2 linked regions of the Homo sapiens genome follow. The protein of the gene in region 2 purifies or fractionates together with the protein of the main gene of each other region. This does not show direct contact. Each region holds a gene or a part of one and is shown on either strand. Other genes may lie near its edges.

Region 1 (3,618 bases), on a different chromosome or scaffold from region 2:
TATAAGCAATACTCTAACATCTGGTCTGGGTCACTCTGTATTACTTACCTGATCTCCAAAAACATTTGGGTTTTTGTCTCTGGTCCAAAATCTTTAGCCAATGGCTTGGCAGTAAAATCCTGAGGGAAGCTGTTGACCAGGTGAGGTGATGTGCAAATCCTATACTCTCTGGGCTCTGGGATATTTAATTTACTATTTATTTATTTATTTTCAAGACAGAGTTTTGCTCTTGTCGCCCAGGCTGGAGTGCAGTGATGGGATCTCAGCTCACTGCACCCTCCACCTCCTGGGTTCAAGCGATTCTCCTTCCTCAGCCTCCTGAGTAGCTGGTATTACAGGCGCCCACCACCACACCTGGCTATTTTTTGTATTTTTAGTAGAGACGGGGTTTCACCATGTTGGCCAGGCTGGTCTTGAACTACTGACCTCAGGTTATCCGCCTGCCTCGGCCTCCCGAAGTACTGGGATTACAGGCATCAGCCACCATGCCCGGCCTAATTTACTTTTTATTAATGCTGAAGCAGAGAGGGCAAGATCTTTTGCCCCTGAGTTCTTCTGGGAAAAATGAAACTGATGGTAAAACAAACTAAAGCAACCTGACATTCTCAGTTGGTCCAGTTTCAGCCCTTTGACTGGGAGTCACAGACGGGTCCCATAAAATGGTAGAGCTGGGCCAGCCTACCATTGATTTATTTTCCCTAAATGAAAAATACAAGGCCCAGAGAGGGCAAGTGACTTGTCCAGAGTCACCCAGCAGGTTTGGGGCAAAGCTGAGACTCGTTACTTGACATCCTAAGGTCTTCCAGAGGCTAATGATTAGCTTGTTTGTGCTCAAAAAATGAAGCAGCCTGGGCGCGGTGGCTCATGCTTGTAATCCTAGCACTTTGGGAGGCTGAGGCAGGCAGATCGCTTGAGCTCAGGAGTTTGAGACCAGCCTGGGCCACAAAGTGAGACCCCTGTCTCTACAAAAAAATGCAAGAATTAAAAAATTAGCTGGGTGTTCTGGTGCGTGCCTGTGATCCCAGCTACTTGGGAGGCTGAGGTGGGAGAATGGCTTGAGCCTGGGAGGCAGAGTTTGCAGAAAGCAGAGATCGCGCCACTTCACTCTAGCCTGGGCAACAGAGCCAGACCCTGTCTCAAAAAAAAAGAATGAAGCAGTTGTTGGTCAGGACAGGACTGTAAACAAGGCTGACACACTCAGATGTGTCAAACATCGCTAATGCCAAAGGTGACAGAGTCATTTGTTTTCATCCAAACATTCGAGAAAGTTGGACGAGGTGACTCACGCCTGTCATCCTAGAGCTTTGGGAAGCCAAGGCAGGAGGATCATTTGAGATCAGGAGTTTGAGACCAGCCTAGGCAAAATAGCAAGACCCCCATCTCTACAAAAAATAAGCCGGGCATAGTGGCCCACACCTGAGGTGGGAGGATCCCTTGAGCCCATGAGTTTGAGCCTGCAGTAAGCTATGATTGCACCACTGCACTCCACCCTGGGCATATAGTGAGACCCTTCCCCCAACCAAAAACATTGAGAGCAGCTCTTGATGAGTGAACTGTACTTCGTGGTCAGCAGTTCTGGGTAGTAATTTCAGAGATGTCCTTTCAGCCCTTGGAGCTGATGCAGGACCTTAAACATGAGCGATGGTGGAGGAGGGAGGGTTGGGAAGGTGCATCAAGGTAGATGAAGAGTGTCCCTGGGGTTGGGCCAACTGGCGGTCCGTCTCTGGTCCAGTGTGTTCACCTTGCCCCCGTCTGATCTTCTGCAGTTGGTATTCCGAGTTGAGTTTGACTAAGTGAGAGCTGCTCTCAGCTTTAACTGCCTTTCCCAAGACAGCCCTTGTTTTTATTCTAAAGCTGTGGTTCTCAACTGGAAGCAGTTTTGCCACCCCAGGGGACATCTAGCAGTGTCTGGAGACATTTTTGATTGTCATGAGTGGAGGAAGGGGTGCTACTGGCATCAGGTGGGCAGAGACCAGGGATGCTGCGGAACATCCCACAATGCACGGAAGAGCTCCCCTCACGACACAGAATGACGCAGCCCAAGAGTCACAGTGCAGAGTTTGTGGCCAGCTGCGGTGGCTCACGCCTGTAATCCCAGCACTTTGGGGGGCCAAGGTGGGAGGATTGCTTGAGGCCTGGAGTTCAAGACCAGCCTGGCCAATATGGTGAAACCTCATCTCTACTAAAAATACAAAAATTAGCCAGGCATGGTAGCGCATGCCTGTAGTCCCAGCTACTTGGGAGGCTGAGGCACGAGAATCACTTGAACCCAGAAACGTGGAGGTTGCAGTGAGCTGAGATTGCGTCACTGCACTCCAGCCTGGGTAACAGAGCGAGACTCTGTGTCAAAAAAAAAAAAAAAAAAAAAAGACTTAGCAACTATTATTACTAGTATTAGTATTATTAATTTGTCAGGCTCACTGAATTTTCTCAAAAATTTGGCAAATTTTTAGGAAAACATTCTCAAAACATTTGGCAAATCTGTGGCTAAATGTTGTTTTGGGGACCCAAGGCTCGTAGGAGCAAAACAGCTTTCAGGTTTCCGGATCTGCCAGAGACTCAAGTGTCCTGTTGTGTGTTTTGTGTCTCAATGAGGGAAAGGGGAATATGTAGCACCTTCCAGATGGATTTGACCTTGACTGCGCCACTGTTTGAAGAGCTTCTCAACCTCCGCAGCTCCACCCCAGCCCAGATATTTCAGGGAATTAGGGTTCCAAGGGGCATGCTATGGAAAACACCATTCTAGCATGAGTCGAAGCTTCTCATCCCCCATCTTGCTGTCTTTTGACCAAAGCAGATTTTGCACGTCGTAACTGTCAGAGACATCAAAGCCAGAGGGAATCCAGCCTGCTCCAAGCTCTCCTTTTTTGTACAGAGACTGAATCTTTGCACTTGATCTTGTTTGTGTTTTTAAGTCTGAGGTTAGACAGGGTCCCAGGCAATGGAGGCGTGCGTGTCCTTTTATTTTTCTGTTGTAGCTTTTGCTATTTTTTCTGACTTTTAAGGCAACTCATCCACATGGCAATTAGGAAGAGCCCACTTAGGGCTGGGCACAGCGGCTCATGCCTGTAATCCCAGCACTTTGGGAGACCGAGGCAGGCAGATCACTTGAGGTCAGGAGTTCAAGACCTCAGCCTGGACAACATGGTGAAACCCCGTCTCTACAAAGAATACAGGAAAATAGCTGGGCATGGTGGCAGGTGCCTGTGGTCCCAACTATTTGGGAGGCTGGGGTGGGAGGATCACTTGAGCCTGGGAGGCGGAGGTTGCCGTGAGCTGAGGTCATGCCACTGCACTCCAGCCTGGGCGACAGAGCAAGACCCTGTCTCAGAAAAAAAAAAAAAAAAAAAAGAAGTCCACTTTACTTGTCATAGTGCTTAGAACAAATGAAACACTCTCCTAGCCCTCTTGGGATGTAATTGGCTACCATCTGCACAAACTCTTCATTATTGCACAAGAATATCAATATACTTAATGCTACTGAACTGTGTTTAAGTGGCCGAGGTGGTGAATGTTAGCTGTATTTTACCACAATTAAAGATAAGAGGGAAGGAAAATGAAGTGTACTTTACAACCAAAAAAGTACGCTTGATGTGCAAAAAAGTGTGCAGCTTGATG
Region 2 (3,618 bases):
TCTCTTCAAATTTCCTTTACCAATGATATATAGCACAATTTTTGATGTCTAGATGGTGCTGTAGGAAGATGACTAAGGCAACCACGTGCAGAAAAGCATGTGTGTGATGCACAGAAAATATAAAGATTGCATTCCAAAAGTGAAGGTCTGCAATGATAGTTTGTTATCTGAAAGGTTTGGAGTGTCTTGTCATTAAAAAATGAAATATACGCCACTGGAGTCATATCACAAATGGTGCCTGATGTGGACACTCTACCTTTAAAATGACTTTTTAAACAGGCAGACATTTCTATGCTGTTTTATAGGTGGCTATGTGACTTCAGTACTTTATAATAAATAGCCAGTCAATCTTGAGAGCCAGCTACTTCTCTTAAACCCAAGTACAAGATATAAATATTCAAAATATGGAATGTTTAACATAGAGACTCGAATGAAAAAATGACAATCTTCAAAATTCCCCATGTTTTGTCATATTGCATAGCTGAAAATTCATCTACTACTTAGTAAAAAGTGCTCTGTTCATTCAAGCTGAATTTTGCTCCAGTCTCCTTCAGTTTCCATCTTTCATACTGAATAGTGGATCCACAAGTTTATTGTGCACATGCATTAGACCTTAAAGAAAAAAAGCACAGTTCTAGTTGTTTTTATTAATTTTGAACTATCTCATTTACTTTAGACAACAAAGTATTTTTTATAAGACACAGTAAGCCTGTTTAGTTCCCATCTTGATATAGTCAAGTTTATTGAAAAAGTACAAATAGAAATGTTTCAGAATGTCTTAAGTTTTATCTACCTAGCAAATACCAATTTATAATTATGTAACAGTGCAGATCTAGAATGTGTACAGGTACTTTGGGAGTAACCAGAAGAGCATTTCTTGTCTTCAAAGAGATTAAGCATGACAAATTTGAATACTGACTTAGATAATAGGTTTTAATTATATCTAAAAGTCTATGTTGATATTGATCCTCTGGCAGTTCCTCTACTAGACTCCAGCCAGGGGCTCAGAACTGCTGTCTCACTCTTAATACATTACCCTATCCATTCGTCTGGTAAATTACTTTCCAATAGTTTGGCATGTGTATTTATGACAAAGGTTGATTACAAATTCTACACTGAGGGAGGGTTACTAAAACAAGACAGAAAACAACCTGTATTAAATCATTTAATTCAGAATAGAAATTACGATTTTAAATCCGGTAGATTATAACTTTCATTTTGTAATTGGTACATATACTTGCAGACTGCTCTTAGCTATGGAAGCTGCTTGGGAAATAGCTGATCTTCCAGTTACTCCTGTTTTAATGCCTCAGTACTATATTTCTTTGGGGAGAAAAAAGTTCTAAAAAGACTGACCCAGTTAATGAACCAGAGATTTTATATTTTGGAGGGTAAAGAAATGAGTTAAGTTTTCCAGGTATTAAGAACATGGGAGGGTGGGGAAAGGCACTTAATGCGGTTTTGCAGGAAATGGGATTACTGGATTGGAGAGATAGGTTGCTTGTTAGTAAACAGATGTTCCTTGTCAGAAAGGCTGCAAAAAGGACTCTAAAATCCCAGCTTTGAGAAAGACCCACTTTTAAGGGACAAGCAAAGAGTACTGGGAAGTGTTTGTGTAGTAGGAGAAATTCTAACCATAAGAATGGGACTCTAAAGGAGGGAAGGGGGAAGCATTCCATTCACTAGTCCTGCAACTGCTCAACAGCCTACTTGAAGGTCACCTGAAACTTCATGTCCAGTAGGAGAGGGGACAACAAAGATAAGGGTAATATCAGCTGTATGATTTAGAAGATGCAACATTTTCCAGAGTATCACTTTGTAGAGGATCGTTTTTCTACTTAAATAGTATTCATCTGTCATTTGCTAACAACTTTGATTACGGAAAGAATACACAGAGCTTTAAAATACATGCAAATTAAAATATCAGTAAATATTAAAAATTCAACTCCTTTATAAAATTTTTTTCTTTACATTGGATATATCTTTTATACATCAAATAGGACTGCTTCCAAACTAGAAATAATTATTTTGAAAATTCTATTAATTGCTTTTTAGATATTAAGTCAAATATTTACTGTGACTTTAGGTAAAAACTGACAACTTTCTACATACGAATTTTATATAAATAAATAATTGCTACTTAAGTCAAACAGAAATAATTCTTCTGATAAAAATGCACCAGACTTCCTGAAACGTTACCAGAAGAAAGGTTAAATGTCACAGATTCTAACCAATGTCTATACAAAGTAACTTTTATGGTTTTGACTCAAAATGAACTCATTCTACCTTTGTCAAACTACTGAGGTGGAGCCTAAATACAAAGTAAGAGAAAAAAATTCATGATGATGATGTCATATACTAAAAATCAAAGCTGTTCTATTTAAAAAGCAAAAATGAAAAGCGAGAATGAATAAAACAAATCCCCACGTACTAAACTTGTTGTCTTGTGATTAACTTGTATCTTTCAAAAGGTATATACCGTTATATAGGTATATATTGAAATAAACTTGCATTTACTGACAATTTTTATTGTTTTGGATCTAGTTAACCTAGATCTTATCTAGGCACTAAATAAAACCCTTTAAGATTCTGGTCAGCACTTTTTAGTGATGACAGAAGAAAGGGTAGTGATGTGAATGGAATTTGAAGAGTTATGGATGACAATTATAGGAATTTACATCCTCCAGTATTTTGATATACTAGTAACTCAATGGAGGTATGAAAAGTATACAAACTACATTTGAAATGTGTTTATTTAAGAATATTCAATTTCTCTACCCTTTACTAAAATGCTGTAAAATGAGGCCCATATGTAGCCCAGAATGTCTAAATTCTGTCTTCATATTGAAGGAGGTATCCTAACAGGCTGATACCCTGAAACCTCTTCAGAAATACAGACAGCTCCAAAGTGGAAAATACTGTGTCCTCTTGATGCAGTGCAGCTATCCTCTCACGAATGGTCTGTTTCAAAATTTTTCAGAAGAGCTTACAATTAGATGAACTAAAAGAACTAAATACATATAAACATCTACCACCCTTCTATTTTAAATTATCTAACATATGTCGATATACCTTTTTTGGAAGCAGTGATTATCATATGGGAAAAAAGCAGATGGAAATATGGTTTTGATGTAGATGGTATCATACCTAGAGTTTATTCTGGGAGGCAGTATAATAGAATAGACAAAAGCCTGCATACTCCAGAGATCAGCCTGATTTTGATTTCTATTACCCAGCTCTGCCCAAATATGTGCTGTATGACTTTGGGTAAGTAGCTTAACGTCTCTGTCTGTTAAGCCTATTAATTTAAAAATGGGACTATGAATACCCATTTCATAACATTTTTGTGATAAGTAAATCAATAAGTAAAATGCATTTAGAATAGTGCCTGGTCATAGAGATACTGGCTGTTATTAAATATCTTATTAAATATTCACCAAGATATAAAAATCTGATAAAAACCTAATTGTGACAAAATTAGATTAGTACAGGGATTTATCTGGGACTTAATGAGGACTAGAAAATGGCCATGTTAAATGAATCTCCTTAAAACTGGAATTAAAATTTGTGGATAGTGAGGATTCCTTGTAGTCAAGGAATCTATTATTTGGGATGAAA

The links.
Region 1: the proteins of GNPDA2 (region 2) and MYH11 purify together in Homo sapiens (affinity purification with mass spectrometry; one large-scale study listed by BioGRID and IntAct). This does not show direct contact.

What each region holds. Positions count from the first base shown.
Region 1 is NC_000016.10:15,846,980-15,850,597, reverse strand, and holds part of MYH11 (myosin-11), read left to right. Parts: intron 1-3,618. UniProt on the Homo sapiens protein: Muscle contraction.
Region 2 is NC_000004.12:44,702,531-44,706,148, forward strand, and holds part of GNPDA2 (glucosamine-6-phosphate deaminase 2), read right to left. Parts: intron 613-3,618; coding exon 551-612; 3' UTR 1-550. UniProt on the Homo sapiens protein: Catalyzes the reversible conversion of alpha-D-glucosamine 6-phosphate (GlcN-6P) into beta-D-fructose 6-phosphate (Fru-6P) and ammonium ion, a regulatory reaction step in de novo uridine diphosphate-N-acetyl-alpha-D-glucosamine (UDP-GlcNAc) biosynthesis via hexosamine pathway.